2 separate regions of the Homo sapiens genome follow, and region 1 is reported to be linked to region 2. The links are microRNA targets in miRTarBase. Many come from high-throughput screens and were not tested one by one. Region 2 holds a microRNA gene; the other region holds the end of a gene's coding sequence.
The links. Region 2 holds the annotated microRNA hsa-miR-1537-3p (AAAACCGUCUAGUUACAGUUGU, at 1,573-1,594, shown strand). A microRNA usually pairs through its seed, bases 2 to 8, with sites in the 3' UTR of a target mRNA and lowers its output. Matches are read on the target gene's strand: a 7mer-m8 pairs with bases 2 to 8, a 7mer-A1 pairs with bases 2 to 7 and ends in A, and an 8mer does both.

Region 1: the mRNA of PMAIP1 is a reported target of hsa-miR-1537-3p. Seed matches in the 3' UTR shown: 7mer-A1 at 3,250-3,256.

Annotation. Positions count from the first base shown.
Region 1 is chr18:59,902,071-59,906,470 of GRCh38, reverse strand. PMAIP1 (phorbol-12-myristate-13-acetate-induced protein 1) reads right to left here. Exons shown (of 2, transcript NM_021127.3): 2 at 2,166-3,824. The coding sequence ends at 3,718. Among named protein-coding and RNA genes, the nearest start is that of PMAIP1, 4.3 kb to the right of the region's middle. RefSeq lists an enhancer at 1,476-1,645.
Region 2 is chr1:235,850,194-235,854,593 of GRCh38, reverse strand. MIR1537 (microRNA 1537) reads left to right here and starts at 1,534; the gene lies at 1,534-1,594. All of the region lies in intron 1 of LYST (lysosomal trafficking regulator), which reads left to right.

The DNA.
Region 1 (4,400 bases), not on the chromosome of region 2:
TGGGCAGTATTGACAAATGTTTTGCTCTTTAACCATGAACTATTACTTGAGAAGATTCACGTGATGACACCGCAGGGTATGTCTATCAAGTGACCCTATCTACTTTCAGCTCCACATAAGAAGGAATTCTGGCAGTGATACAATCACTGGGAAAGCTTGCATGCATAGCAAACTCCCCTTTCTAAGAAAATACAAGTCCAAGAGGTTCCCACTCAACCTCCTCTAAGATTTAGAATCAATGTTTGGGGGAAGAATCCAGAAAACAGAAATTTGGGGGGGGGGGTCTTTTAAAATCCCACTCCCCTGCTTCTTTTTGCAAACCCTTAACTTTCCTCTTAGTGTCTGAAATGAGCTCAGGAGTGGGGGCCGACAGACTTGGAACTATGGTGGGAGACCTTCAGACTCCTTTGCCATCCCATTTTATGATTCAAACTTCAGGGGACCTTAAAGATGATCTAAGTCTCAATTTCAGAGATTAACTGTGGCTCAGAGAGGTTGTCTTGCCCAAGGTCACACAGCTCATTCATGATTTTGCCTTGAAAGTCCACCTTCAAGATTCTAAAGTGGGATACTCCTTGTACCGCAGCACTTCCAGTCACTATTCTATTTTTAAGGTGTTTGTTCTCTTCCTGATGGATCGTCCCCTTTGACGATTGACAATGAGATTTACAGGATTTTTGACCCTTTAGGTGGTTTCTGCTCCGTGATTGAGAGGAAGTGGGGCAGGGAGGAGTTTGTAGAGTTATTGCAATGGATTCCAAAACCCAAATCACAGCACACAGTTCTTTAAAGTGAAGAACAACTTATTCACAGATAGATACATTTTCTTTTATAATATAAATGCAAATTTAAAAGCTAGCAGTTTTTGTCAGTCAACAGATATAATTAGAATTGCCTGAACATCTTGGACATTTTTTAACATTAAAATATGGTTCTCAAAGAATATATAGCTCTAATATCTGAAGATTGTGAATCTGTGCCTAAGCCTTCATGTGCTACTCTTTATATAAAAGAAGAGCCTGAGGTACACTTTTTTTCCTTGTTTTCTAGTGGTGGCGAGAACTAATAAGGTGCACTTTTAGCAAAACAATTCTGGCTATGCGAGCAGGCTCAGAGACAGGAGTTACTCTTCCAGTGATTCTCAAATCAAATCATGTAGTTTGTCCCCACCCTTTCTGAAGCCAAGCTCCCACCTCCACCCCACTTTCCCAGAGAAAAGCCTCTCCCTCCAGATTGTTATGTATCTTGCCCATAACCCTGCATCCTCCAGCTCTCTGGTTCTTCTTTTCCTCTAGTAACTCCTCCTTCTTCCCTCACGTTTCCCATGTTAGGAAGGCAATTTACATTCTAAGGTGTCAGCTGACTCTTTCCCTTGGCAGAGGTGGGGTGAAGATGTGGCTACCAGATTGAAGCTAAAAACTAGGGGTATCTTTTAGTTCTCACACTCAAACAGGAAGGCCATTGAGTTACACCTACTTTTGCACATGACTAACCTCAGATGAAGCAATCTTTGCTACTCTACGGCTGGAAGCAGAGGAAGAAGCGTGAGGTCACCAAAAAGGAAACTGCACTGCAGCTCCTCTTGCCAGACAGACCCAGGAGCAGTCAAGGATGCCAGCTCACAAAACACCTCTAATTAGATCATGAATCTGTATAGGCTGTAATCCCAGCACTTTGGGAGGCCGAGGCGGGCAGATGACTTGAGGCCAGGAGTTCAAGACCAGCCTGGCCAACATGGTGAAATCCCCGTCTCTACTAAAAACACAAAAATTACCCAGTGTGGTGGCGTGTGGGGGAGGCTTTAGCACGAGAATCACTTAGACCCAGGAGGCAGAGGTTGCAGTGAGCCAAAATTGTGCCAATGCACTCCAGCCTGGGCGACAGAGCAAGACTCTGTCTCAGAAAAAAAAAAAAAAAGGACCTATGTTGGGCATTCATTTCCTATTTTTCACTATTTCCCCTCCCAATTAAAGTGTAAGTCCCTTGAGAGCAGAAATCATGCAAACTCCCCTATATTTTCTACTCCAACTACTGGGAGGAGACAGTGTGGTCAGAAGGTCAGAGGATGTCTGCTGATGGAAATCAGTTAAAATACTTTGGCTTGATAATGAACACTTAGTAATTAGTAGCTTACAAGATGAAGACAAAATTAACACACAGAAAAGAACAGTGAAAACTTTTAATAGTTTACTGCCACAGTATCAACTTTTATATGTGTGCATATGTTTAAATACAAATTAGACCATAAATACCAGATGGTAAAATAGCTGCCTCTAGGCTGAAAAAAAAAACTCTCTACCACTAAATAAACAATCTTAAGTAATACTGAAGAAAACAGATGTGAGGTAATTTTCCATCTAAAGTGACTACAACCTACATTAAGACATTTTAACTAAAAATTCAAGTAGTTATAAGACTCTTGTAACTCAAAAATGTAACTTTAATACACATTTTCAAACTAAAGAAAAATACTTTAATTATAAATAGGCAAAATAAATAAAATTATTCCTGCTGAAATAAAATCAAGACATTATTTATTTGAGGACTGTATATAGCCCAGATAAAAAAAATGAAACTTACTTGAGACCCTACTAAGAAGCTATATAATACTCTAATACAAATTATCTATACAGATACCCATATAAGTATGTAAGTATGTGTATACATATATATTCACCAATGCATATATGGAACTTTCATTCTAGATGAGAACTAACTGTTCCTTTTTTTTAAGAAAAGTATATTCCAATTATGAAAATATTCTTAATTTACATTAAGAGATCACTTTTTGTAGGATGCACACTAATGTGACAAGGAGCATTTTCCGAACCTTTAGAAACTTCTTTAGAAACATTCATATCTTATCAAGTTACTTCTGAATATTTGTTCTACTAAGTTTCAAAAACATCAATTAAAAATTAACTTCTTTTTTCTTTTTATTATCCCTGGTTATACAAAATCCCCATGTTCTTTTATTATATTGAATGTTCAGTCTACTGATTTACTGGCCCCAAGTAACCCTCCTATACTTTATCCAATTTTTTCAAAGTTATTTTCCAGTTTTCCATAGTTTCTAGTAACGCCCAACAGGAACACATTGAATGAAAGATCATCTGAACAGAAGCAATACAATTTGAGTCAAAAGAAACAAATGATTTTACGTTGTGTAGTGACCGAAGAAATCAACACTGAGTATAACATTTCAGTGTTCTCAGAATGAGTTTTTTCATTATAACAAGGTAATATGTATAAACCGAATCATATACAATGTGCTGAGTTGGCACTGAAAAGCAAAACACCAAAAACAGCAACAACAACAATGCACTGAACTGTTTCTCCCCAGCCGCCCAGTCTAATCACAGGTCATCTCCCTTCACAGTAGGCCAGCGGTAATCTTCGGCAAAAACACTAGAACGATTCTCTAAGTAAAAAAGAAATGTGTCAATAATTACTTCTTTATTTTCAAGGGTCTTCCATTCTTGCTTTAAAATAAACAAAGTGGTTTTATAATGTTCTCTCATCCCAAAGAATGATAATCTGGGAAAACTTGAACAGAAATTCACTTTGATGTATTCCATCTTCCGTTTCCAAGGGCACCCATGAATGCACCTTCACATTCCTCTCAATTACAATGCAGTCTTTCTTCAAATTGATGAAACGTGCACCTCCTGAGAAAACTCTTTTGAAGGAGTCCCCTCATGCAAGTTTTTGATGCAGTCAGGTTCCTGAGCAGAAGAGTTTGGATATCAGATTCAGAAGTTTCTGCCGGAAGTTCAGTTTGTCTCCAAATCTCCTGAGTTGAGTAGCACACTCGACTTCCAGCTCTGAGAAGGAAAGCAAAACATGGACATGAACATTGATGATATTACAGACTGTAACCAGCAAAACCTAATACGCCCACACTAGTGACAAATTGAGTATCCCAGGAAGCATTTCTCTTAACTTTGGCTTTATGTGCACCTGTTTTCCAAATGTGACACACACACACACTTACACACATTGTGACTCACCGAAAGCAATCGTTAAGGTAAGAATAAAGACATTTACTTTGAGTTTTTAAAAAACGCATCCTGGATGAGGCAAGTGTTACCTTACTTTCAAATATGTCAAATACCACAAAGAGTAGCATTATCATTCTTTGGGATGTGAGAACATTGTAAAACCACTTTGTTTATTTTAAAAGCAATGCTACAAAGAGTAGCATAAGTCACCAGCCTTAGATGATGTCATCTTTTTCTCTTCATTTAAGGTTGGCTGGGAAACAGAAGTCAAGTTCTGTGTGGCTTTCAAGTAGGATTTGATTTTCAAATGGCAATAATTTACAGCTTAGGTTATACTCTCATTATATAGGCAAATCTAGAGGTATTCTTTTTCTCGTTAAAAAACGCTGATATTTTTTC
Region 2 (4,400 bases):
CTTAGAAAGAGGAAGTCGAGTACCCAAGGTCATAGAGCAGCAGATGCAGAGGTGAACCAGTAAGTGGTCAAGAGGGAGAATTGACTAGGCACTAGATGAAGTGCTATTCTGGTTTCTCACCTCAGTCACTGGGTAGAGGCCATTTACTGAAAGAGGAATGAAGAAGGAAGAGCTGGCTTATTGGAGAGAGAAGTCAATGTCTGCTTTGGAGAATAGAAATTTGTATATAGAATACAAAGGGATTGCATGAGTCTGAATCCTGGCCCTGACACTTAGTAACTCTGTGACTTTGAGCAATGACCTAACCTTACTGTGCTTCAGTTTCCAATATGTGTCAACTAGGGATAATAATGTTACTTAGGAGATTGTTAGGAGGATTAAACTAACTACTCTACTTACCTAGAGTGCTTACAATAGTGCCTGATGTGTAGTAATTAATCACTGTAGGTGTTAGCCAGATTATCATCATCATCATCATGCTATAAAAATCCAAAGGTCTCTTTTGAGGAGGGATGTAGTAGTCAGTGTAAAACATCTAGCACATTCCTTCTAACAGGGATAGAAAGCCGGGGAGATGATTTACCTGGATGAACCTTCATAGTTCCTTTAAATGCCGTCTCTCTCTCTATAGCTACAATATCTCAGAATTTCTACCCTTTTGCGGTGCTCAGGGCCAAACACAGGTTCTTCCTGAGATATCTGGTTGCCGAATTTGTTTGTTTTTAGGAAAAATGAACTACCTGTTGAAAGGCTTAAGTTTGGTGCGTTTTAGTGTGACTTCCTCTGAATTTCTATTAAAATTTTGCCTGGCTGCCCTATGCCTGAGTTTCCTTTATTTCCTGGCCAGCTTTGTTCTGCAAGGAGCCAGAGTAACCTCTCCTCCCTAGGTCAGCGCCCCAGGTTTCAAGGCAGCCGGAATGGCATGTTAACCAAGATTTCATGGGCTTGGGGAGAGGGGTAGCGAAATAGGCAATGTTGTTTATTGACACCCTGAAATATGAAAAAATAATATGTACACCTTTCTGGGCCATTGCTGTCTTAGATTTCCATTCTTCCCCCAGAACTACTGCCTTACTGCTGTTATACATGTTTTTTTTTTTAGTTTTCTTTACACAATTCTACATAAATTGGAAATATTTCATTAAACACATTTTTCTACTTTAACTTAGCTTAAATGCATAATACAGAATAAATATAGGAACAGCACAACCATTTATTTCCATATTCACTAGTTAAGGATTATTATATTCCCACATTTTAAATATAGAACATCTAGTTCAGAGCCAATTCTTAACCCTCCGATGCTGAAATTTCTGATGCTCTTTAGAGCTGAAGGTGTTACTTCTTGTTAAAATGTACATACTTCTTTTCAAGAGGAGCAACATTTTTCTTCCAAGTCATTTACTTTTTGGTATAAATGTACAATGTGGAAACATGGAAAAAGATAACAAAGCTGTAAAACATCTTGAGAAGTTTGTGGGGGGGCAAGAAGTTTGTGGTGCTTGGAGGCGTGCCTGGGAGTTGGCACTAAGTACAGCTGTAATTAGTCAGTTTTCTGTCCTGTCCACACAGAAAACCGTCTAGTTACAGTTGTAAGTTGTGCCAGACCTAATCGCTAAAATGCTCTGAAAGGTAGAATTCTGAAAGATATAGTTTGGTTGTGAGTAGTCTGTCAAAAATTGTATGCAGTATTAGGAAAAACATTGGATAGGACTCTGCAGACCTAGCTGTTAAGTCCTCTGACTTTTGGGAAATCTCTTAACTGCTGTCTGCCTTAGTTTATCTGTAAAATTTTGAGGGAGGTGATATGGTCATTAACCCAGAGATCGTTTAACTCTCTGAAAGTTGATTGTAGAATGGATTCTCATTTTAAAATAATTTATTAAATGCGAACTCTGGCAGTTTTCCTTTATTGTCAATCAACTTGTCACTTACCTCAGTATTAGTTGAAAAAATGTCTTTTGAGTATGGCAGTTACGTCTTACATATGACTGTGTTCCAGAGGCTCATTTCTAAGATGGTTGTTGAGAATGTTTAGAATGCATAAGATTTGCCCTTACAGACAAAATAAACTACAGTATACTTGAGTGTTGCATTGTGAGACTTCCCCGGGAAAAAGGTCCGGCAAAGTGCTGAGATTACCTCAACATGTCTAACTGGCTTACTGTTTGCCTTACGTGGTACTATCCTACTTTTGGGGCCCTTTCCCCAGATTGTTGGAGCTACCACAAATGGCTTTGAGGTACAGGAATCTCTTCTCCCTCCCTGACAGGCAGGGGGCTGGGGGAGAATGGGGCAAAACATATTGCTAGCAATTCAAGTTGGAACTCTGAATTCATTTTCCCATTGAGGCATGAGTTGTTACTAAGATTCTGTAGGGTCTGTAGTTAAAAGCCTTAACAGCATTTCCTTCCTGAAGCTGTCCCAATGTTAGTATCTACGGAACTGGAGACCACAATCTTTATTTCCTAAGAATACATGACATCTTGACTTCTAGTCAGATGCTCCTTAATGCACTCTTCAGAGAAGCAAGTTCAGTATTTGTCAAGAAGGGCCTGGGCGCTAAACAACTGCTATCATTTCTTTTAAAGTTAATAGATTCAATGAAAGTTGAACATACCACGAAGTATGGTGAGTAGTCAATAAATATGGGATCATGATTTGTCTTATGGAAGATTTCAGTTTGTGAAACCATTTATATTATTGTTAAATTGGTTTTCATGAATTTTCTTATTCAGTTATTTAATTTAGAACTTTAAGTGTCATATCTTTCCCTGATCTGCATTTTAAATTCCAAGAGGAATTTGATCACACAAAGCCCATTAAATATTTTAATTTCCCCTATTTAGTGAGTACCAGATTTTGCTTCAGTATTCTCGAGAGTGTATTTATTATCCACTATAAAATAGATTATAAAGGTTTTTATATTAATAAAAGTAAATATATAAAAATAATATTCCTAATGAACTTTGTTTTGTCTTTAGTTAGGAATCATTCTTTTTTTGCCAATAAACCTTTTTATTTTTATTATTTTTAATTTTTCCATCAGTTATTGGGGTACAGGTGGTATTTGGTTACATGAATAAGTTATTTAGTGGTGATTTGTGAGATTTTGGTGTACCTATCACCCAAGCAGTATACACTGTACCATATTTGTAGTCTTTTAATCCCTCGCCCCCCTCCCACTCTTCCCCCCAAGTCCTCAGAGTCCATTGTATCATTCTATGCCTTTGCATCCTCATAGCTTAGCTCCCACATATCAGTGAGAACATATGATGTTTTGTTTTCCATTCCCAAGTTACTTCACTTAGAATAATAGTCTCCAGTCTCATCCAGGTCACTGCAGATGCTGTTAATTCATTCCTTTTTATGGCTGCATTGTATTTCATCATATATATATATATACACACACATATACATACATACTTACATACCACAGTTTCTTTATTCACTTGTTGATTGATGGGCATTTGGGTTGGTTCCACAATTTTGCAATTGTGAATTTTGCTGCTATAAACGTGTGTAAGTATCTTTTTCAAATAATGACTTCTTTTTCTCTGAGTAGATACCCAGTAGTGGGATTGCTAGATCCAATGTTAGTTCTACTTTTAGTTCTTTAAGGAATCTCCACATTGTTTTCCATAGAGGCTGTACTAGTTTACATTCCTACCAGCAGTGCAGAAGTGTTCCCTGTTCACCACGTCCATGCCAACATCTACTGTTTTTTGATTTTTTGATTATGGCCATTCTTGCAGGAGTGAGATGGTATCACATTGTGGTTTTGATTTGCATTCCCCTGATCATTAGTGATGTTGAGCATTTTTTCATATGTTTGTTGGCCATTTATATATCTTCTTTTGAGAACTGTCTATTCATGTCCTTAGCCCACTTTTTGATGGGATTGTTTTTTTCCTACTGATTTGTTTGAGTTTGTTGTAGATTCTGGATATTAGTCCTTTGTCAGATGTATAGATTGTGAAGATTTTCTCCCAATTCTGTGGGTTGTTTGTTTACTCTGCTGACTGTTACTTTTGCCATGCAAAAGCTCTTTAGTTTAATTAGGTCCCAGCTATTTATCTTTGTTGTTATTGCATTTACTTTTGGGTTCTCTGTCATGAAATCCTTGCCTAAGCCAATGTCTAGAAAGGTTTTTCCAATGTTATCTTCTAGAATTTTTATAGTTTCAGGTCTTAAGTTTAAGTCCTTAGTACATGTGTAGTTGATTTTTTGTATAAGGTGAGAGATGAGGATCCAGTTTCATTCTCCTACATGCGGCTAGCTGATTATTCCAGCATGATTTGTTGAAAAGAATGTCCTTTCCCCACTTTATGTTTTTGTTTGCTTTGTCAAAGATCAGTTGGCTGTAGGTATTTGGGTTTATTTCTGGGTTCTCTATTGTG